Linked DNA regions of Homo sapiens. The protein of the gene in region 6 purifies or fractionates together with the protein of the main gene of each other region. This does not show direct contact. Each region holds a gene or a part of one and is shown on either strand. Other genes may lie near its edges. The genes, in order: PPP2R2B, BPTF, HAUS5, IFFO1, ARMC9 and KRT78.

Evidence for each region.
Region 1: the proteins of KRT78 (region 6) and PPP2R2B purify together in Homo sapiens (pull-down; one large-scale study listed by IntAct). This does not show direct contact.
Region 2: the proteins of KRT78 (region 6) and BPTF purify together in Homo sapiens (affinity purification with mass spectrometry; one large-scale study listed by BioGRID and IntAct). This does not show direct contact.
Region 3: the proteins of KRT78 (region 6) and HAUS5 purify together in Homo sapiens (affinity purification with mass spectrometry; one large-scale study listed by BioGRID and IntAct). This does not show direct contact.
Region 4: the proteins of KRT78 (region 6) and IFFO1 purify together in Homo sapiens (affinity purification with mass spectrometry; one large-scale study listed by BioGRID and IntAct). This does not show direct contact.
Region 5: the proteins of KRT78 (region 6) and ARMC9 purify together in Homo sapiens (co-immunoprecipitation; one large-scale study listed by IntAct). This does not show direct contact.

What each region holds. Positions count from the first base shown.
Region 1 is NC_000005.10:146,585,258-146,588,757, reverse strand, and holds part of PPP2R2B (serine/threonine-protein phosphatase 2A 55 kDa regulatory subunit B beta isoform), read left to right. Parts: 3' UTR 1-3,500. UniProt on the Homo sapiens protein: The B regulatory subunit might modulate substrate selectivity and catalytic activity, and might also direct the localization of the catalytic enzyme to a particular subcellular compartment.
Region 2 is NC_000017.11:67,975,503-67,979,002, forward strand, and holds part of BPTF (nucleosome-remodeling factor subunit BPTF), read left to right. Parts: intron 1-269; coding exon 270-456; intron 457-3,500. UniProt on the Homo sapiens protein: Regulatory subunit of the ATP-dependent NURF-1 and NURF-5 ISWI chromatin remodeling complexes, which form ordered nucleosome arrays on chromatin and facilitate access to DNA during DNA-templated processes such as DNA replication, transcription, and repair.
Region 3 is NC_000019.10:35,619,235-35,622,734, forward strand, and holds part of HAUS5 (HAUS augmin-like complex subunit 5), read left to right. Parts: intron 1-189; coding exon 190-270; intron 271-378; coding exon 379-524; intron 525-777; coding exon 778-889; intron 890-960; coding exon 961-1,093; intron 1,094-1,188; coding exon of another isoform or gene 1,189-1,205; exon of another isoform or gene 1,206-1,253; intron 1,254-3,366; coding exon 3,367-3,499; intron 3,500-3,500.
Region 4 is NC_000012.12:6,542,543-6,546,042, reverse strand, and holds part of IFFO1 (non-homologous end joining factor IFFO1), read left to right. Parts: intron 1-3,500. UniProt on the Homo sapiens protein: Nuclear matrix protein involved in the immobilization of broken DNA ends and the suppression of chromosome translocation during DNA double-strand breaks (DSBs).
Region 5 is NC_000002.12:231,355,631-231,359,130, forward strand, and holds part of ARMC9 (lisH domain-containing protein ARMC9), read left to right. Parts: intron 1-167; coding exon 168-304; intron 305-3,500. UniProt on the Homo sapiens protein: Involved in ciliogenesis. It is required for appropriate acetylation and polyglutamylation of ciliary microtubules, and regulation of cilium length. Acts as a positive regulator of hedgehog (Hh)signaling.
Region 6 is NC_000012.12:52,838,995-52,842,494, reverse strand, and holds part of KRT78 (keratin, type II cytoskeletal 78), read left to right. Parts: intron 1-2,510; coding exon 2,511-2,731; intron 2,732-3,007; coding exon 3,008-3,042; intron 3,043-3,122; coding exon 3,123-3,382; 3' UTR 3,383-3,500.

The DNA.
Region 1 (3,500 bases), on a different chromosome or scaffold from region 6:
AAATCAAGCAGCTGTGACATGAAGTGAATGAAGTCCACTTGAAGCTGTGGAAGATGGTTCATCCTTTTCCCCAGTTGAGGATCCAGATTTATAACTTCTAGAAAGCCATTTCCAGAAGGTTCTATGTGGCACACCCCTAGGAAAGGCACTAAATGCATGCAAAGGATTTATAAACTTAGGAAAGTAGATGGGTGGAGTCCAGAAAACTGGTTCTGGGTTAATATCTCTACATCTGTCTTGATGACTCATTTCTCCTAACTCCCATTTAGTGCAGGGTAAATGGTTTGAGATGAGAGTTTTTCAATGAAAGGGAAATTTTCTTTCAGTTTACAGATGTATTAGAAGTCCTGACTTTCAAGTGTAATTTGCTTTGGAGGAGGAAAAAATAGTGAAAGAATCATTTTATCTCAATTCTAAGCTACTATCCATTTACTAATAGCTTTTTGGCAAGGAAATAACTGTCACCTTAGGTAAAAACAGTCTTGTTAGATGCAGCCCAATTTCAGGAACATTAAAATGTAAAAAAGTACGTCTCAGAATTGAGGGAGCATGGGAACAAAGACGAGACTTTCTCAGTATTTCTCATTTTTCCTGCAAGGAAAGCCTCGCCTTAGGCATCTCAAGTAAAGTGGCTAAGGTGTAAACTCTCTGGGCAAGATTTCTGTCCTGACTGGGACAGTGTTCTTGGAGGAGACATGAGAGAGTCAGAAACTTCTGCCAGTCATAGAGAGTGATGATTTTGCAGAAGGCCACTGGGTTATTGGCCTACATTTACCACCGACTTCCTTTATGGCCTTTTCTCCACTTCTCCGGACTCAGCTCCTCTGTCTGTACCACGTCGGGGGTTGGGACCAATCATTGTATCTCAAACTTAAGAATCAACTCACATTTGTACTATTACTCATGTAACATTTTTTTAAGTCACCTTTTCTTAAAAGCAAGACTTAGCCTCCTCCAAAGAAATAATATGCATGAAATTTCAACTCTGATATGCTAGGTTTTTCCCTAACATTAATCACATAATTATCAATGTAACAAACATGCACCCACATACCACCTGAAATCATTTTGTGAACCACCAGGAGCATGTGTATCAAACTTTGGGACCCTGAGTAACTGATATGACAGAAGATTTATGCCCTTAGGGGCATCAAAGATGGTGGTTCTTCACATATTAGAGTCAGCAGGGCTGCCCATAACACACACAGGAATAATTTTTGTCATGGTTTAAGGAGTTCATAGGCCCCTTTGCAGTTTATCTGCGAACTCCAAATAAAAGCCCCTACACTAGTCCAACACCCTTAGCATATAGATGTACAAACTGGGATCCAGAGTAGGATGAGTTTGCCAGAGAAGAAAGAGCAGAGGGCAGCCATCCTCTCCTCCATCCCCTGCAAAGGATGCATTAGAGCAAACACCCAAGACTCCTGGACGGGAACAGGAGGGGAAAGCCCTAGAGATTAGGCCTCAGGGAGCAATAACCACCACGATGTTTCACAAATTAACTGTTCTTTACCAGGTACTGAACTAGGTATTTTACATGTGTGATCTTTCAGCCCCAGTACTGGCAATATTTCTTAGTTAGTGGCACATAGAAGTCAGTCTGTTTTCCTGCTGACACTAAAAACTACTTGAAGGCTGATTTGCTACCTTGCAACAGTTGGTTCGATTCTAAGGGCCCTATACTACTTTACCCCACAAGGCCTGCTGCTTGGTAAGAGCCATCAGATTACAACTGGAGGGTGTCAGTTGAATGAAGGAAAATGGAAGCCACGCCATCCCTGGCTTTTACAAAAACCATCCTTGCGCAACATTCAGTTCCTGACGTTAAAAACAAGTAATGCAAAAAGCTGAACTTTGGTAGACATTCGTACTCTTCTGTCAGGAGGAGGAAGATTAGTTAGAAAAAACAAAAAAGGAAGATACTAGCCAGCATCAAGAAGTGGGATATATAAAGGCAGATGGGCAGTGGGAATCAAGTTGCTTCTTAACTCCTTCAAGTTTGGCTCCTGCCTTTACTCTTCCATTGAAAAAAAAGCACCTTTAAACCTCTCATTGATCTTGTAATTAATTCAACCAAATCAACTTCTATTAGGCAACCAGCATATATAAGATGGAACAATTGCAAGGTGGAATAAAGATGAAGCTAAAATTCTGCTAGCTCAGTGGCCCAATGAAATAAGTCAGCTATCTCCACTAAACTTCCTTTGAATATTCTAGGGTCCATTATAATAAAAGGTACACACTCAAATGCCCAATTTCTAAGGACTTGAAAAGCCATAATTTCCCTCCCTTCAAGCCTACAGAGCAACTGCCTAAAGCTTCCCTCCCCAGACAACCCCAGGCCTCATTTCTTTTTCAGTCCCTTTGCTAGCTGCCTGCAGGGCTCAAGAAAGCCCTGGTAGGCCTCATAATGAGGATTTAGGGATGACACTATAGTCCACAGCCTGAATGGTGGAACCCTTACTAATTTTCCCTCTTCCGTGATGAATGTGTGGATGAAGCCGGTGTGTTTTTAATAATGCCACCCCACTTCCAAAACAAATCCCCTGACACAGTCTTTGGACATACCACCCTGAATGCACCCGATCTCATCTGATCTTGGAAGTGAAATGGAGTCAGGCCTGGTTAGTCTTTGGATGGGGGAAGTCTAGACACACCACTGAGAAACATTCACACTGCAACCTGATTCACTGTGCATCCAACATGCCTTCATCCACCTCTTCCCCCTGAACTTCTAAGTCAACTCTCAGGGACTGCTTTCCAAGGGAGCAACCAACCTGGTCAGTGGAAAAAGGATGAGACTGGGAGACAGGAAACGTGGGTCCTGCTCCTGGTAACCATGGAACTTAAGCTACCCACTCAGTCCCTATGTCAGTGTCATCACCTGTAAAATGGCCAGAAAGACATCTATCCTAGCTCAGAGAATTGTTATTGGGAGAACAAGAAATCCATTTACTTACAACTATTTTGATAGGTTTAAAGCACCATAAACTAATAATAGCAACAACAGTGATGGGTAATATACTATTGCTTTCCATGCCTCATCTCATTATCTCCTCTCCCAGACCCCATGGTGGCATTAGTATTTCCATTTTGCAAATGAGAAAATAGACTCAAGTTGTCAACCTAGCCAAGGGCACAAAGCCCGAGAGAGATGGAACCAGGACTCCAACTCAAGGTATCTGACTCTAAAGCCAGAGCTGTTAAAATACAGCTCTAACATACAATAGTTGCTAACATTTATTGAGCACTTATTATAAGCCAGGCTTTGTTCTACAAATTTCACATGTATTGACTTATTTACCCCTAAAACTCCAGATGCAGATACTATTGTTGTTCTCATTTTATAGATACAGAAACAGATGAATGACAACCAAATTTACACAGTTCACAAGTGACAAAGCCAGGCAGTTTTAGTTAAAGTTCTTATCCACTATCCCCATCATACATTATGTGTGTGTGTGTGTGTGTGTGTGTGTGTGTGTGTGTGTGTGTAT
Region 2 (3,500 bases), on a different chromosome or scaffold from region 6:
ATTTGAATGAAGAACGGTTCTGTGCAGTTACCTGAAAGTAAAAGAACCTTAACAGCAACCCGGATTTATATTTTAGAACCTCAATCAGAAACAAAATTGGAAAAGTACTCTTTTGTTCTTTATGAATTGCAAAATAACCTCCAGGGTGAACCAGCCTGGCTCCAGGACTGCTTGCACAGTAAACATATATACTTGTTAGAACTTCGGAGAATATTCACATTGGAAAAACCTTAAAGCTCTGAAAATGTTTTACATTTTGTGTTTTTAAGACCTTGCCACCATGGAAGAAAGAGTACAAAGACGATATTATGAAAAGCTGACGGAATTTGTGGCAGATATGACCAAAATTTTTGATAACTGTCGTTACTACAATCCAAGTGACTCCCCATTTTACCAGTGTGCAGAAGTTCTCGAATCATTCTTTGTACAGAAATTGAAAGGCTTCAAAGCTAGCAGGTGAGCAGATGGGTTCGGTATTCTGAATTAATTCAACTCTTCACACTCTTTATACTATTCTGTCTAACGATTCAACCAGTGCAGTTTATGGTAAATTTAACCTTAAATATCTTTAAAAAAAAAATAAATAAATCAAGACTCCAGGGTTATGATCTACTGCCAAGGAGAAGTGGACAAATTGCTGGGTTTGTTGTTGATCTACTTAAAGTCTTTTTTTGAAAATTCAAGAAGTGGCCGGGCATAGTGGCTCACGCCTGTAATCCCAACACTTTGGGAGGCCAAGGCAGGCAGATCACCTGAGGTCAGGAGTTCGAGCCCAGACTGGCCAACATGGGGAAACCCCGTCTCTACCAAAAATACAAAAATTAGCCAGGTGTGGTGACGCACGCATGTAATCTCAGCTACTTGGGAGGCCGAGGCACAAGAATCACTTGAACTTGGGAGGCGGAGGTTGCAGTGAGCCAAGATCACACCACTGCATTCCAGCCTGGGTGACAATGAGACTCTCACAGGAGGTGGGGGGAACATCCCAGCCTTGTCAACATAATGAGACCATGTCTCTACAAAAATTTAAAAAATTAACCAGGCATAGTGGCATGCACCTGTAGTCCTAGCTACTCAGGAGGCTGTGACAGGACGATCACTTGTGCCCAGGAGTTCAAGGCTGCCGTGAGCTGTGATTACACCACTGCTCTCCAACCTGAGTGACAGAGTGAGACCCTGTCTCAAAAAAAAAAAAAAAAAAAAAAAAAAAAAATAAGAATAAAAGAAGAATTTCCTGAGCTGATGATTGTCACAGGACTTTAAATTCTAGCAGAATAAATTCCTTCACTCAGCAAATAACTTTTGAGAACCTGATGTGTGCCTGATACTGGGAATTTAGCAGTGAATAAATTAAAGCCCCTGCACTCTATGAGGGGTGGGTGGAGCAAGGGGGACAGTTGATAAACATCATAAACCAGGTAGACAAATGGAAAAAGACTCACCCCTACATACATCGCTATAAAATTTCCAAATGCTAAGAATAAAAGAAACTCTTAGATAAAACCGACAATCTATAAAACAAGAATTAGATTGGTGTCAGATTTTTCTGCTGTGACATTTAGTGCTAGAAGATTATGGAAGAATAAATCTAAAAGTTTAAGAAAAAATGATTGTCAGCCTAGAAGTCTGTGCAGCCAGTCAAGTTTAGAGGCAGAATAAATATATTTTCAGTCATGTGAGGACTCAGGGCATCCTTTCTTGGCAGGTATTTTTAAAAAGTGTGTGCTATTGGCCAGGCATGGTGGCTCACGCCTGTAATCCCAGCACTTTGGGAGGCCAAGGTGGGTGGATCACTTGAGGTCAGCAGTTCAAGACCATCCAGACCAACATGGCAAAACCCCATCTCTCCTTAAAATACAAAAATTAGGCAGGCATAATGGTGCACGCCTGTAGTCTCAGCTACACAGGAGGCTGAGGCATGAGAATCGCTTGAACCCGGGAGGCACAGGCTGCAGTGAGCTGAGATTGCGCCACTGCATTCCAGCCTTGGTGTCAGAGTGAGACTCCATCTCAGAAGAAAAAAAAAAAGTGTGCTGTCAAAAATAAGGAAACAAATTTTTTCCTTTTAATAATGTATCTTCCTGTAATCCCAGCACTTTGGGAGGCCGAGGCGGGCGGATCACGAGGTCAGGAGATGGAGACCATCCTGGCTAACACGGTGAAACCCCGTCTCTACTAAAAATACAAAAAAATTAGCTGGGCGTGGTGGCACATGCCTGTAATCCCAGCTACTAGGGAGGCTGAGGCAAGAGAATCACTTGAATCTGGGAGGCGGAGCTTGCTGTGAGCCGAGAAGGCGCCACTGCACTCCAGCTTGGGCGACAGAGGGAGATTCCATCTCAAAAAAAAAAAGTATCTTTTTTTTTTTTGAGACGGAGTTTCACTCTTGTTGCCCAGGCTGGAGTGCAATGGCGCGATCTCGGCTCACCACAAGCCCCACCTCCCGGATTCAAGTGGTTCTCTTGCCTCAGCCTCCCTAGTAGCTGGGATTACAGGCATGTGCCACCACGCCCGGCTAATTTTGTATTTTTAGTAGAGACCTGGTTTCTCCATGTTGGTGAGGCTGGTCTCAAACTCCCGACCTCAGGTGTTCTGCCCACCTCGGCCTCCCAAAGTGCTGGGATTACGGGCGTGAGCCACCGCACCCGGCCATGATGTATCTTTTTATTTAGGGACAGGGTCTTGCTATGACCCAAGCTAATCTTGAACTCCTGAGCTCAAGCGATCCTCCCACCAGCCTTGGCCTCCCAAAGTGCTGGGGCTGTGAACCACTGTGCTGGGCCAGAAATATATATATATATATATATTTTTTTTGAGACAGAGTCTCACTCTGTTGCCCAGGCTGGAGTTCAGTGGCACAATCTCGGCTCGCTGCAACATCTGCCTCCTGGGTTCAAGCAATTCTGCTGCCTCAGCCTCCCAAGTAGCTGGGATTACAGGCAGCCACCACCATGCCCAGCTGATTTTTGTATTTTTAGTAGAGACGGGGTTTCACCATGTTGACCAAGCCGGTCTCAAACTGCAGACCTCGTGATCCGCCTGCCTCAGCCTCCCAAAGTGCTGGGATTACAGATGTGAGCCACCGTGCCCGGCCAGAAATTTTTGTTTATTTGAGTTCAGAAAACAAGTGGTTCAGGAAAGCAATGAGAATTACTCTGACCCAAGATGACATTTATACAGCAGGCTGTAAAATGTCAGCAGACCAAATCCTAGCAGGAGAATGGAGCACTCCCCAGAGGCTCAGTAGAGCAAGAAAATGACTCATACATTAGATAATTTGTTTAAGACAGAAAAACATAAGGCTATGATTAAGCCAAAGAACGTCAGGGATAAAAATGAAAGGCAATTAGAAACGCCACTAAAAACAGAAAGTTGTGTAAGTGTACCCTGTTAGCTGGGCACGGTGGCTCATGCCTGTAATCCCAACACATTGAGAGGCTGAGGCAAGAGGATGCTTGAGCCCAGGAATTCTAGACCAGCCTGGGCAACATGAGGAAACC
Region 3 (3,500 bases), on a different chromosome or scaffold from region 6:
TCCAGCCTGGGTGACAGAGCAAGATGCTATCACTTAAAAAAAAAGAATGCTGTCACTTAAAAATTAAGAACTGGGCCTCCTAGGCAAGAGCCCAGGTGAGACTCCCAGGCAGAAGCAGGACCTAAGCAGAGAGGCACACTGAGGCTGGGAGCTGGGAGGAGTGGGTCTCAGGGTATCCTGGTTCCTCAGGAGGAGACCCAGGAACAGGTCCGCCTGCTCATCAAGGGAAACTCGGCCAGCAAGACCCGCCTGTGCCGGAGCCCGGGGGAGGTGAGATGGGAGTTGGGGTGAGGTCTGGGTAGGGCTGGATCTGCCAGGATGGGGCTGGGTGGACTTGTGATGTTGTGATGCCCCACCCACCCCTCCCCTTCCCCACAGGTGCTAGCTCTGGTCCAGCGAAAGGTGGTCCCTACATTTGAGGCAGTGGCACCACAGAGCCGGGAGCTGCTGCGCTGTCTGGAGGAGGAAGTCCGGCATTTGCCCCACATTCTGTTGGGCACGCTGCTGCGGCACAGGCCGGGAGAGTGAGACTGGGGCTGCCCCACCCCTGCCCTGCATCCCCTGCCATGGGTGACTGTCACTCCCTGAACCTCCTCAAAAAAGATAACCCCAGACCCCCAGTGTTCCCAGGCTGCCAGACCTCACCCTTGGGTCAGCAGCCCTGGTCTTGGCATCCTAGTCCCCAGACCCACCTTGAAGTTCCTGGGCCCCCAGAGCCTCCAGAACCCAAGGCCTCCTCTCAGTCCCCACCCAACCCAGACTTCTCCCCGCCCGTAGGTTGAAGCCCCTGCCCACGGTCCTCCCATCCATCCACCAGCTGCACCCCGCGTCCCCAAGGGGCTCCAGCTTCATAGCGCTGAGCCACAAGCTGGGGCTGCCTCCAGGGAAGGTGAGTGCCCGTCTCCTGTGACTTGTCTCCCCAGCCCCGCCCCAGGTGACCGTCCTTCCCTCCTCCTCCAGGCCTCGGAGCTGCTCCTGCCGGCGGCTGCCTCTCTTCGCCAGGACCTTCTGCTCCTGCAGGACCAGCGGAGCCTCTGGTGCTGGGATCTACTCCACATGAAGACCAGCCTGCCGCCAGGCCTTCCCACCCAGGGTAGGTCTGCCCTGCCACCCCATCCAGCCTCCCCGCCCATTCCCACTACCAGCAGCCTCCACGAGTCCTTACCAGCAACCCCGTTGTTTACGCAGTGCCCATTGTGTGCTAAGGGCTTTAAACATTCTCCCTTGTTTCATCTGCACGGCAGTCCCATAAGGTAAGTGCTGCTGTTCTCTCCATTCTACAGAGAAGGGAACTGAGACGCAGAGGTTAGTAGGTTGCCCAAATGGCAAAGCTGGAATTTGAATCCAGGTGGTCTGAAATGGGTCTGTGCTCCCAACCACTAAGCTACACTGCCGTCGACTTTCCACGTGTTCATTCATCACCGTCACATAGTATACCTCAGCAGTTCAAAGCCTGGGAATCCTCTCTGCCGTCTCTTCCTAGCTGTGTGGCCTCCCCGTGCCTTAGCTTCCTCCTCAGTGGAGTAAGCATGAAGCAATATCTTACCGAGGTGCTGGGCAGATTGAGGCAGGGGACCCACACAGGGCACTGAACACTGCCTGCTATGCAGTAAGCACCCTGTGTCTCCAATGTGATTAGCATCATTGTCTGTGTACACACACAGTCTCTTGGAGTCATGACGATGAGGAAAGGGACTTTTAAGAACCCCAGTTTACAGATGAGGAAACTGAAGGTTAGAGAAGTCATTCATTCCTGGATTCACTCACCAAATACTGGGTGTCTACCAGGTGCCAGCCCAGATGGCTTGATGGGGAGTGAGGAGAAAGGTCCCCACCCCAGGGGTTTCCCCAGATGGAAGTAAAGAGTAAAGAATGAAAGGATAAATACATGGAAGAGGAGAATTGATGAGAAATGAACCGGCAGTGCCAGCAGCACTGGAGGAAGAGACTGTTCAAGCCTCTGAGTTTGGGGCTCCCTGCCCTCCACTTCTTCACAAGGGGAGGGAACAGTGTGCAGGAGCAATGAGAGCAGCCCCAGACCCCACACGGCCTCTGCCCACCTCAGCCTCTGCCTACCACGCCCTCTGCCCACCTCATGTGTTTTTTGTTTTTGCTTTTGTTTTTTTGAGACAAGGTCTCATTCTGTCACTCAGGCTGGAGTGCAGTGGTGCCATCCTGGCTTACTGCAGCCTCAACCTCCTGGGCTCAAGCCATCCTCCTGCCTCAGCCTCCCGAGTAGCTGGGACCACAGGCATGCACCCCACACCCAGCTAATTTTATATTTCTTATAATCATGGGCATCTTGAACTGTACACATCTATCATGGAACTCCTGGTTCTCTCTACTCCAAAAAACAATTTTGTTCCTCTTCTTGGTTTCCTTCCTTGTTAAATTATCTCACCCTCCTCATCCAAGTGCTGCACCCAGAAACCCAGGAGTCATCCTGAATTTCTCCATCACCCTAATCCCCCCACCCTCACCAGCTTCAGCCTCTCAGCAAGCCCTAAGGGTCCCATCCCCAGAGTTCTCCCATCGGTCCCCTGCCCCAGTAATTCCACCTGACAGCAGACGGAGCTGAACAAAGAGCCAGTGTCGTGATCAAGGTCACAGGGCAGGGATGGGATGGGGTCAGGATTCAGGCCCAGCTTGTCTGATCACGCTGCTCGTCTGCACTTGCTGAGCTGGGCCTGTTCTGTGCACATGGAGAGGTAGGCCCAGTCCCAGTCCCAGAGGAAAGCACCGCTAGGGTGAAGCTAGAGCAGGCGGAGGAGGAAGCCTTGGAGCGAGAGTGTTGGAGGGGCCTCCAGGAGGAAAGATACTCTCTACTGTGGGCCCTGGGAATCGGCCAGGCTTTGCCACATCATGAAACTCAAATACCTGCTGAAGGGCTTGGACTCTGCCTTGGGGGCACTGGAGAACCTTGGAGGGTTCTAGACAGGAGGGAGAGCATCAAATTTAGGCTTCAGGAAGATCACTGTGGTGTAGTGCGGAGGGTGAACCAGAGCAGGAGACTGAGGCCTGGAGCAGAGGAGAGGAAGAAACGCTCAGGAGACTGAGCGGACAGGCCATGGAGATTGATGGGCTCTCACGGGGAGGGAGGAAGGCATCCAGAAGGAGGCCTGGATGGGGCTGGGGGTGGTGGACTGCCCTTGAGATGAGGATCTGGGAGGAGGGACAGGTCCTCATCTCAAGGGCAGTCCCTCAGAAGGGGACTTCCAGGCTGGGAAGAGAAGGAGACAGACTCATCATTGGTTTGCGGGAGCTGCTGAGGTCAAGACTAGGGGACTGGAGAATTGGGGACTCATTGCTGTAAGGTACCAGCGAGCCAGAGGACTCAAAGCTGCCTCCTGGCTTTCTCACCCTCAGAGCTGCTGCAGATCCAGGCATCCCAGGAAAAACAGCAGAAAGAGAACCTGGGGCAGGCTCTGAAGAGGCTGGAGAAGCTACTGAAACAGGCACTGGAGCGAATCCCTGAGCTGCAGGGGATCGTGGGGGACTGG
Region 4 (3,500 bases), about 46 Mb from region 6:
CGGATAGAAGATTCATTCTTACTGTAGAGCTTACCAACCTCAGCATCGGATTCTTTTTCTTATTAAGTTGAAAACTTTTACCTTTTCACTTAAAGGGAGCATATTTTGGCTTCTCTTTCACATATCCAAATTGCCAGCATCACTACTCTTGTGCTTTGGGGCCATTATGAAGTAAAAATAAGGGTTCCTTGAACACGGGCACTGCCATACCACGACAGTCAATCTCATCACTGAGATGGCTCCTAAGTAACTAATGGGCAGGCAGTATAGACAGTGTGGATCCTTGGGACAGAGGGAGGGTTCATGTCCTGGTCTGGATAGAGTGAGGTTTTTTTTTTTTTTTCCGAGACGGAGTCTCGCTGTGTCACCCAGGCTGGAGTGCAGTGGCTTGAACTCGGCTCACTGCAAGCTCCACCTCCTGGGTTCACGCCATTCTCCTGCCTCAGCCTCCTGAGTAGCTGGGACTACAGGCGCCCGCCATCACGCCCGGCTAATTTCTTTTGTATTTTTTAGTAGAGATGGGGTTTCACCGTGTTAGCCAGGATGATCTCGATCTCCTGACCTCATGATCCGCCCACCTCGGCCTCCCAAAGTGCTGGGATTATAGGCGTGAGCCACCGCGCCCGGCAGAGAGAGTGAGATTTTATCAGGCCACTCAGAACAGCGTGCAATTTAAAACTTAGGAATTGTTTATTTCTGGAATATTTCATTTAATATTTTCAGATCAAGGTTCACCTTGGGTACCTGAAGCCGTGGAAAGTGAAACCAGTGGATAAGGAGAGAGTGACTTTATTCTTTTCATTTATTTATTTATTTATTTATTTTTTTGAGACGTAGTCTCGCTGTGTCGCCCAGGCTGGAGTGCAGTGGCGCGATCTCAGCTCACTGCAAGCTCCACCTCCCAGGTTCACGCCATTCTCCTGCCTCAGCCTCCAGAGTAGCTGGGACTACAGGCGCCTGCCACTACGCCCGGCTAATTTTTTGTATTTTTTAGTAGAGACGGGGTTTCACCATGTTAGCCAGGATGGTCTCGATCTCCTGACCTCGTGATCCACCCGCCTCGGCCTTCCAAAGTGCTGGGATTACAGGCGTGAGCCACCGCGCCCGGCCTTGACTTTATTCTTATTGCTGTCACATTGGAGGTGTTTGAGAAGGAAGTCGAGAAATTATTTTCCTATATACTCATTCTCCCAACACACATCAAACTGTCCTGCTCCTGCATCAAACCTGGTTTTCTTGGCCAGGTAGATGAGGTTTCCTGGATTTGTGCTGCTAGCTAAAGACATGGCAAGGGAAACCAGTACTCCCCACCCTCCCGTCTACCGCGGCTCACTGTTTCCTCCTCCTGCCTGACCTGATTCTTGTCTCCCTCTTTTGGATGGTGGATTTAAGGTTTGTGTTTTCACTGTGCCTTCAACCAACTAGGGGCCTTTGTGCGGCCATCTTCGTGAGAAGAGATCTCGGGCTGCCATCTCTCCCTAGTCTTCCCTGGACCTCAAGTGCCCAGTGTAAAACATGATCTGAAAGAACGAAAATAATATCTTAAATGGAATCATGCCTTTTAAGCTATTTTTGGCTGGGCGTGGTGGCTCTCGCCTGTAATCCCAGCACTTTGGGAGGCCAACGCGGGCAGATCACTTGAGGTCAGGAGTGTGAGACCAGCCTGGCCACCAACATGTGAAACCCCGTCTCTACTAAAAATACAAAAAGTAGCCAGGCATTGTGGTGGGCACCTGTAATCCCAGCTACTTGGGAGGCTGAGGCAGGAGAATTGCTGGAATCTGGGAGGTGGAGGCTGCAGTGAGCTGAGATTGTGCCACTGCACCACAGCCTGGGTGACAGAGCAAGATTCCATCTCAGGAAAAAAAAAAAAAAAAGTATTTTCAAATCATCTGACTCCTCCTCTCTCCCAGTGCAATGACTTTAGGCAGCAGTCCCCAACCTTTTTGGTACCAGGGACTGGTTTGTGGAAGACAGTTTTTCCACTGACCCGGGGGAAATGATTTTGAGATGATTCAAACATTACATTTATTGTGTACTTTATTACTATTTTTAAAAATTATTATTATTATTTTTAGAGACAGAGTTTTGCTCTTGTTGCCCAGGCTGGAGTGCAATGGCGCAATCTTGGCTCACTGCAGCCTCCGCCTCCCGGGCTCAAGCAATTCTCCTGCCTCAGCCTCCCAAGTAGCTGGGATTACGGGCATGTGCCACCACGCCTGGCTAATTTTGTATTTTTAGTAGAGATGGGGTTTCTCCATGTTGGTCAAGCTGGTCTCGAACTCCCGACCTCAGGTGATCCACCACCTCGGCCTCCCAAAGTGCTGGGATTACAGGCATGAGCCACCGCACCCGGCCTGTGCACTTTATTTCTATTATTATTACATTATAATATATAATGAAATAATTATACATCTCACCATAATGTAGAATCAGTGGGAGCCATGAACTTGTTTTCCGCAACTAGACGGTCCCATCTGGGGGTGATGGGAGATAGTGACAGATCATCAGGCATTAGATTCTCATAAGGAGCACACAGCCTAGATCCCTCGCATGCACAGTTCACGTAAGGTAGGGTTCAGGATCCTGTGAGAATCTAATGCCGCCGCGGATCTGACAGGAGGTGGAGCTCAGGCTGTAATGCCAGTGATGGGGAGCAGCTGTAAATACAGATGAAGCTTCACTCACTTGCCCACTGCTCACCTCCTGCTATTTGGCCTGGTTCCTAACAGGCCACAGACAGGTACTGGTCCGTGGCCTGGGGTTTGGGGACTTCTGCATTAGGGGAACCGTTAGGAGGACTTGCTGACCTCAGGAGTACCCAAGGTGCCTTTATCTTTGTGACCTTTGATCTCTCAGGGTCACTAAGATGGAGCAAGGTAAAGCCAAGGCCCAGAGTGGTGGGCGGGAGGCAGTTCTTCCCCACCGCTCCTCACCTCTCTCTGTCTCCTCCCGTCCCACCCCCAAGTCTGTTCACACAGCGAGCCTGCAGTTTTCAAGGTGGCTTGTCAAGGACATCTCCTGACATGCACGTTCACCTCCTGACCTTGTTCCTGCTGTAAATTTGTGAATTAAGTGGGGACATAGACATATGCAGAGACTACTGGTGGCAGTACTAGCCTTGTATTTCAGTAGAATATATTTGGTTCATTTCCTTCTTCCCAGTCTCCCTGAGTGATGGTTCCAGAACCCAGCTCCCTGCACTCCGGTTCTTCCAAGGTGGAGAAATTGGGGTGTAGGCAGCTGATCTGAACAAGGGCTGGTGGCACTGTATTTTCCCCCTGGGTTGAACAGTCACCGTGTCCTGCTCCTCCCACTACTGTGGGGCCCCAGCTGTGGATCCAAGCCTGCCAGGGAAGCTGTCCCCACTAGGGCTTCTCACCCAGCCAGCCGCCATCTCACCCCAAATGTCACTGTCCTGACCATCTCTGCTGTCTGGCCCTGTAACCTGTTTCCTTCTTTCTCTAAGTTCCCACCCTCTCTGTCCAATCCACATTATG
Region 5 (3,500 bases), on a different chromosome or scaffold from region 6:
CTCCTGGCTCCTGCCAAGACCCTTTAGAAGGTCTGATATGCTAATGATGGTTTAACAAGACTTTGAGGCACCGCCCCCTCCTGTATTTGTGATGCTGCAGTCGGCAGTCGGCAGTCCGAATCTCCTGGCTGGCTGTACTCACTGCCGTTTTTCATGTTTTTCTCCAGGGTGGAAGACCAACACACACCTCCCCAGACAGCCCAGCACGCCAGAAACGGCCACCCGCAGGCCCTGCCAGCCGCTCACGAGGCTGTCTACAGGGAGGGCAAGCCCAGCACCCCGGAGTCCTGCGTCTCCTCTTCATGTAAGAATGTGGGCAGCACACTGGGTCAGTTCTGGGATTGTGATGTCTAGAACCTACGCAAAACAGCAGCAGGAGTGGCAGACGCACGTCTGCTCCTGGGAAGCCCTCTGGTCTCAGCAACAGCCCCGTGTCACAGAGGCTCACGGGATTCCCAGCCCACAGCCAGACCCATGCTGGGCTGGTCCTCTGCGTCCCCTTCTCAGAGCACTGCCTGTTGTCCCGTCTGGGAGCTCCTGGGGCAAGATTTCTGACTGGTGAAAGCCGGCTTTAATGTGAAATTTCGGAGGAGGAATGCCGGGCTGATGTTGATCTGTGACCCTGATTCTGATAGCTCAGATTCTGGTGCAGAGAAGGCCAGCCGCCTGCTGGAAGGCTGGACGGAGGCAGAAATGTGCAACTAAGAGCACAAACAACTCTGGGATCCAAACGCCTTTGAAACTTCCAGCTGAGTTAACCAGAGGCTGATGGGAGATAAAAGTATTTTTTAGATGCCAGAAAAAATATATATACTTTGAATCAGAAATGTACAAAGTATTTTTTTTAATTTTTGAAAGGAAATTAAAAGGATTATGAGCAGTTCAGATAAGACTCTAATTTCCATTTGAGTAGGAAAAACAACAGAGGAACGGGTTGGATTCCTGTCTGAGAAACATCTGAGAACTTGCATCTGCTCACAATTGGATTCAGACGCTTCCAGGCCCAGGTGCAGAGCGGTAGCTAGTGACGAGTCAGCACTGGCTGGGTTATTTGCAACTCCTGGGTCTCTTGGTGATGAGCAGTTTCAGAGGTTTTGCCAGCGTTGATCATCAGTTATTTTACATGTGCTTTACTAAAGCTGTAAATATTAATATGCTCTCCAAAGGTGAGCAGCTTAGTAATTTATCCAGAGATTTCTGCTGCCAGGGTGGAGGTCTTAGGGGGCGTCTGAAAAGTTTTGCCAATTTGACTGAATGCCATTGAGTTAAAACATTTCAAGTTCTTAGGCCTGGACTTCCTGAAAGGCTCCACAGTACATTCAGGGTAACGTAGCGGTAACATCCTTGCTTTACCAAAATGACCACTGAGAGGCCCTTTATTTTTGCACTGATTGGACGTGCCTTTGGGAAGCTGTCATGCTGTTACCTGCAGGGCGGAGGCACTTGAGGTTGGCATGGATGGAAATGGCCAAGGAGCAGCTGCTGCAATGTTGATGTTATTGTTGTTTTCAAGAACAGTTTACTTTAGCCCTGACAAAGTCTGGGCCCAGGCACATTCCGGGTTCTTGCATGAACAGGGTGGGCACCCACCAGGACACTCAGCCTTGGTGGTCACGGGCGGTTGCCAGTGCTTCTTCCTAGGGAGGCAGCAGCTGCCCACCAGCCCCCAGATGGACCGGCTGGAGGCAGAGCAGTGCTTTTCCCAAATCCCGCTGTCAGTGCCCCCATTAACCTGCCCCAAATGCTGAGACCGTGTTCTGAGTGTCCCTTCCTTAAGCCTGCTCCTATTGGCTCAGCCTGGCTGGGACCCAGGACACGGACCCACGCAGCCCTGCCCTTCTCCACCTGCCAGAGACCAGGAATAGTCACTGCCCTCCCTGGCCCTGCCAGGCCCGCTCTGAGCCTCAGGCCAACACCCCTAGTCCTCCTTTTATTTTATTTTATTTTACTTTATTTTATTTTATTTTGAGACAAGGTCTCACTCTGTCCCCCAGGCTGGAGTGCAGTGGCCAGTCATAGCTCACTGCAGCCTCACATTCCTAAGCGATCCTCCCGCATCAGCTTCCTGAGTAGCTGGCACTACAGATGCACCACCATACCAGGCAAAGTGGTTTTCTATTTTTTGTAAAGACGAAGTTTGCTGTTGCCTAGGCTGGTCTTGAACTCCTAGTCTCAAGTAATCCTCCTGCCTGAGCCTCCCAAAGCACTGGGATTACAGGCGTGAGCCATCATGCCTGGCCCTCTTAGTCTCCTTTAAAATCCTTTTACTTGACAAAAAGTTCTTCCTTTGGAAAAACCAAGCCCCAGGTGCAGTTTCCTCTGGGTCATGAGTAAGCCTTTGCCACGCTTGGAGTAGATTCCATTCTGACCTTCTTTCAGACAGGCCTGCCCACGGCCTGTTGCGTCTCCCCAGTTGGCCTCCCTGCCCCTCTCCCTGTCCTGTCACCTGCCTCTGCCTAAGGGATGGATGGCAAACAGCCCTCTGCTTCTGTGCTCCATCTGGGCTTTGCAGATAGGGGGACTGCGGTTAAGTCCATTAAGCCAGGGTATGAATGAGGGGGAGGGGGATGAGCAGCAGGGACAGCAGGGAGTGGGCAGTGCTGGGCTGGGCATGGGCACCCCTGAGCCATGTTGCCTTCTGCTTCATTCCTTCCCTGCTCAGGAGCTTGCTCTGACTTCCTCCAGACAGTCCTGCTTCTCCATCCCTCCCCTCCACTTCAATTGATTGATTGATTGATTGATTGATTGATTGTAGAGAGAGGTGTCTCTCTGTGCTGCCCAGGCTGGTCTTGAACCCTTGGGCTCAAGCGATCCTCCCGCCTCGGCCTCCCAAAGTGCTGGGATTACAGGCATGGGGCCCCCTCCACTTCCCTTCTCTCACTCACCTTGCCCCAGGCCCATCCTGGCCCCAGGCAGCGCTCCCCACAGGTCTCCTTGCACACAGCTCGCTGCTGAGTCTGGCCTGTGCTGGGAACTAACGCCCCACCCAGAGACCCCGTGGAAACCCCCACCTTCACGCTGAGTTTCTTGAGGAAGAGCCTTTGCGCTTTGCGTTCAGTCAGCACCGCAGGGAAAACTCATGAGGAGGAACCTGTTGGACCCTCAAACTGCTTGATCGGTTGAGTGCAGGCCCAGAAAGTACATTCTAGGCAAAAGACAGCCCCAAATGCCAACAGGAAATAGTTCCCAAGGGAAAAGGCCAATAATATGGCTTAGCATTTTGCAGAACGTTGGCCTAAGGAAAGCTATTCTCATTTCCCCACCAACCAGGACTATCTTCAATATCAAAATCACATGCCTTGGGACTTCATAGCCCTGGGAGTTAAAATGCCCAGCCCTGTCTGAAATGGACCAGCAGGCAAGAGATACTACTGTCCCAGGAAGACCCCGGTGCACACCCATGGCTGCCCCATCTCCTAGCTCCTGGCTGTCTTAGTTAGGGGGGTCTCCTGTTTTTTTTTTTTTTTTTTTTTGAGATGGAGTCTCGCTCTCTCACCCAG
Region 6 (3,500 bases):
GGTGGGGCTAACTTCTCCTTAGGTAGATGCATTACAAGGGTCAGAAATAGAGGAAGAGATTGGCAAGGGGAGGGAGGCCGTTTCCTGCTCCTCCTGCGGTGTAGAGACCTCACTTCTAGATGTGAAGTGTTATGAATTCTCAAATTGTTAAGTATTCTTGCACTCATATTTCCTAAACCCAAAATATCAATTTGGGTGTCAATGGAGGATGGAGAGCAGAGACCACAGAGTCAGGCCATTTCCTCAAGCACTACAGCTTGATTCAAAAGTCACATGTGGTCCCTTGACTCCCAAGCAGAGCCCTCTGGGGAGGGTTCTTGGAGTATCCAGAACCATCCTCCTGGTTCTTGTTTGCAATGAGAAGCAGGGCTTGAGATGAATGTGATGAATCCTCTTACTCAATTTGCTGCCACTATGTTTCACCAACAAATTTGGACCCCTTGCTTTGGAGTCCTCTGGGGTGGCTATTAAGATCCAGATTCCTGGCCTCCTGGCAGAGCTGAGGAGTCAGAATCTCTAAGGATGGGGCCCAGAAACCTGCTTTTTAAATGAGGTTGCCCAGCTGGTTCTGAAGCATGTGGTCTTGAGAGTCCAGTGGCAGCACGCAGGAGTGTGTATGTGTACTGGGTACCTGGGTCTGGGAATCACAGCTCCTCACACAGCAATGTGCCTTTCCCAGGAGAATCCCTCCTGGAGATATAGCACTGTCCCCTGCTCCTTTTCCTGCACAAACATGATGAACTGGGCTCCCCTGTGCAGGCCCACGTGGGTTAGGATCCCAGTTCTGCCACTCTTCTTTCTGAGCCTCAGTTTCTTCATCTATAGAGTAGAGATTATGTTTCTATCCACAGAGTGGGAATCGATAATAACAGCCTTTAGACAATTCCTTCTTTCCTGAGTCAGATGTGAGGGCAAATCAACTGTAAGGCTGATAAAGACAGGGATCTCATCCTTCCTCTAGCTTTCTATTGTAAGTAAAAGGATTATATTTTCTTTTTTTTTTTTTTTGAGAAGGAGTCTCACTCTGTCACCCAGGCTGGAATGCAGTGGCGCGATCTCGGCTCACTGCAACCTCCGCCTCCCGGGTTCAAGCGATTCTCCTACCTCAGCCTCCTGAGTAGCTGGGACTACAGGTGTGTGCCACCATGCCCGGCTAATTTTTTTTTTTTATTTTTAGTAGAGACAGGGTTTCGCCGTATTAGCCAGGATGGTCTCTATCTCCTGACCTAGTGATCTGCCCACCTCAGCCTCCCAAAGTGCTGGAATTACAGGCGTGAGCCACCGCGCCCGGTAGAGATTATATTTTTCAAGTCCCAAATTGAGGCATATGTTTTGATGTACTCTGACAACAGGACAAAGTATTTGAAATGGGACTGTCTGAAAAAAATGAGAACCATTGTGACCCTCAGGGGGAGCCTTGCAGATAGTGATCCATGGTACAGGAAGAGCTTTAAGCACCCTGGGAGAGGTGCCGAGGGCTGGGGGTGGGAAGAAATAGGGAAAGAGCACTTGGGGAGGTGGCACAGGAGTTGTACTAGTGTCCTAGGCCTGTCATGACAAATCACCACAAATCGGGTGGCTTAAAACAACAGAAATGTAATCTCTCCCAGTCCTGGAGCCTTGAAGTCTGAAGTCAAGGTGTTGGCGGGGCCGTGCTCCCTCTGAAGGTGCAGCGAGAGTCCTCCCTGGGTCTTGCTAGCTTCTGCAGGCTTCAGGAGCTCCTTGGCATTTTTCGTCTTATTGCTGCATCATTCCCATCTCTGCCTCTCTCTTCTTCTTTCTATTTTTTGAGATGGAGTCTTGCTCTGTTGCCAGGCTGGAGTGCAGTGGCATGATCTTGGCTCACTGCAACCTCCACCTCCCGGGTTCAAGCAATTCTCCTGCCTCAGCCTCCCGAGTAGCTGGGACTACAGGTGCGTGCCACTATGGTCAGCTAATTTTTTTATTTTTATTTTTAGTAGAGATGGGGTTTTACCGTGTTAGCCAGGATTGTCTCGAACTCCTCACCTTGTAATTCACCTGCCTCAGCCTCCTAAAGTGCTAGGATTACAGGCGTGAGCCACCATGCCCAGCCCTGCCTCTCTCTTCTGATGAGCTCTTCTCTCTGTGTCTGTCTCTGTGTTCTCTCTTCTATTCATAAGGACACCAGTCATTGGATTTAGGGCTCACCCTAAATATGGTACGATATGATCATGAGATCCTTAATTAATTATATCTGTAAAGACCCTACTTCCAATAAGATCACATTCTGGGGTTCTGGGTGGACATGAAAGTTTTGGGGGATACTCTTCAACCTACTGCAGGAGGTAAGGAAGTGAGGGAAGCAATACCTTCCCTTAGAATGAGAGGAGCCTGTTGCAGGGGTGGTGTTGGTACAGACGGCCATGGATAATTTTGAGCTCATAAGATTATGATCCGCCCCAGCCTTCAAGTGATATCCACAGTGGGTGCTTTGAGAGGCTATGTTGGACTTACAACCACCTTCTCGCTCATTTCTACCCCGCTTCCAGAACGCCAGCCTGCAGGCCGCCATCACTGATGCTGAGCAGCGTGGGGAGCTGGCCCTCAAGGACGCTCAGGCCAAGGTGGACGAGCTGGAGGCTGCTCTGAGGATGGCCAAGCAGAACCTGGCCCGGCTGCTGTGCGAGTACCAGGAGCTGACGAGCACGAAGCTTTCCCTGGATGTGGAGATTGCCACTTACCGCAGGCTGCTGGAGGGCGAGGAGTGCAGGTGAGGGAGGCTTGGAGGGACCTGGGAATATGAGTTTGGGGAGGAGGATGGGATGCCAACACAGTGAGCTGCTTGCTAAAGAGGATTCTGAGAGATTTCCTGACATTGTGAGTTGCTAAGGGCAACCGACGCTGCAGAGAGGGATTTTAAGTTGGAGACTGTGGATTTTATCTGCTGAGAGGGTGGGTGACCTGCTTTGAGGGGCTTAAAAGCTCGTGGGGATGCATTCTTTGTAGTATTCCTTAGCGCATCCCCCTCTTGTCCTTTTCCCCCTAGGATGTCTGGGGAGTGCACCAGCCAGGTCACTATCTGTGAGTATCAGGGGACTTTAGGGATGGGATCCCCATGGGGAGCTGATGACCCTGCTCTGACCCGGTGCGTTTCTTGGCAGCCTCGGTGGGAGGCAGCGCTGTCATGTCTGGAGGAGTTGGTGGAGGCTTGGGGAGCACTTGTGGACTCGGTAGTGGGAAAGGCAGCCCTGGGTCCTGCTGCACCAGCATTGTGACTGGAGGCTCCAACATCATTCTGGGCTCTGGGAAGGACCCTGTTTTGGATTCCTGCTCTGTGTCTGGCTCCAGCGCTGGCTCCAGCTGCCACACCATCCTGAAGAAGACAGTTGAGTCGAGTCTGAAGACATCCATCACCTACTGAGCGACCCAGCAGCCACCTCCTTCCTGAACACATTTGGCCCACTCCCCCCATCAGCCGGCTCTGCAAGGCCAACTCCGTGTCCGCTGCCCACAGCCCAAGCCAGCCCACAGCGGATGCT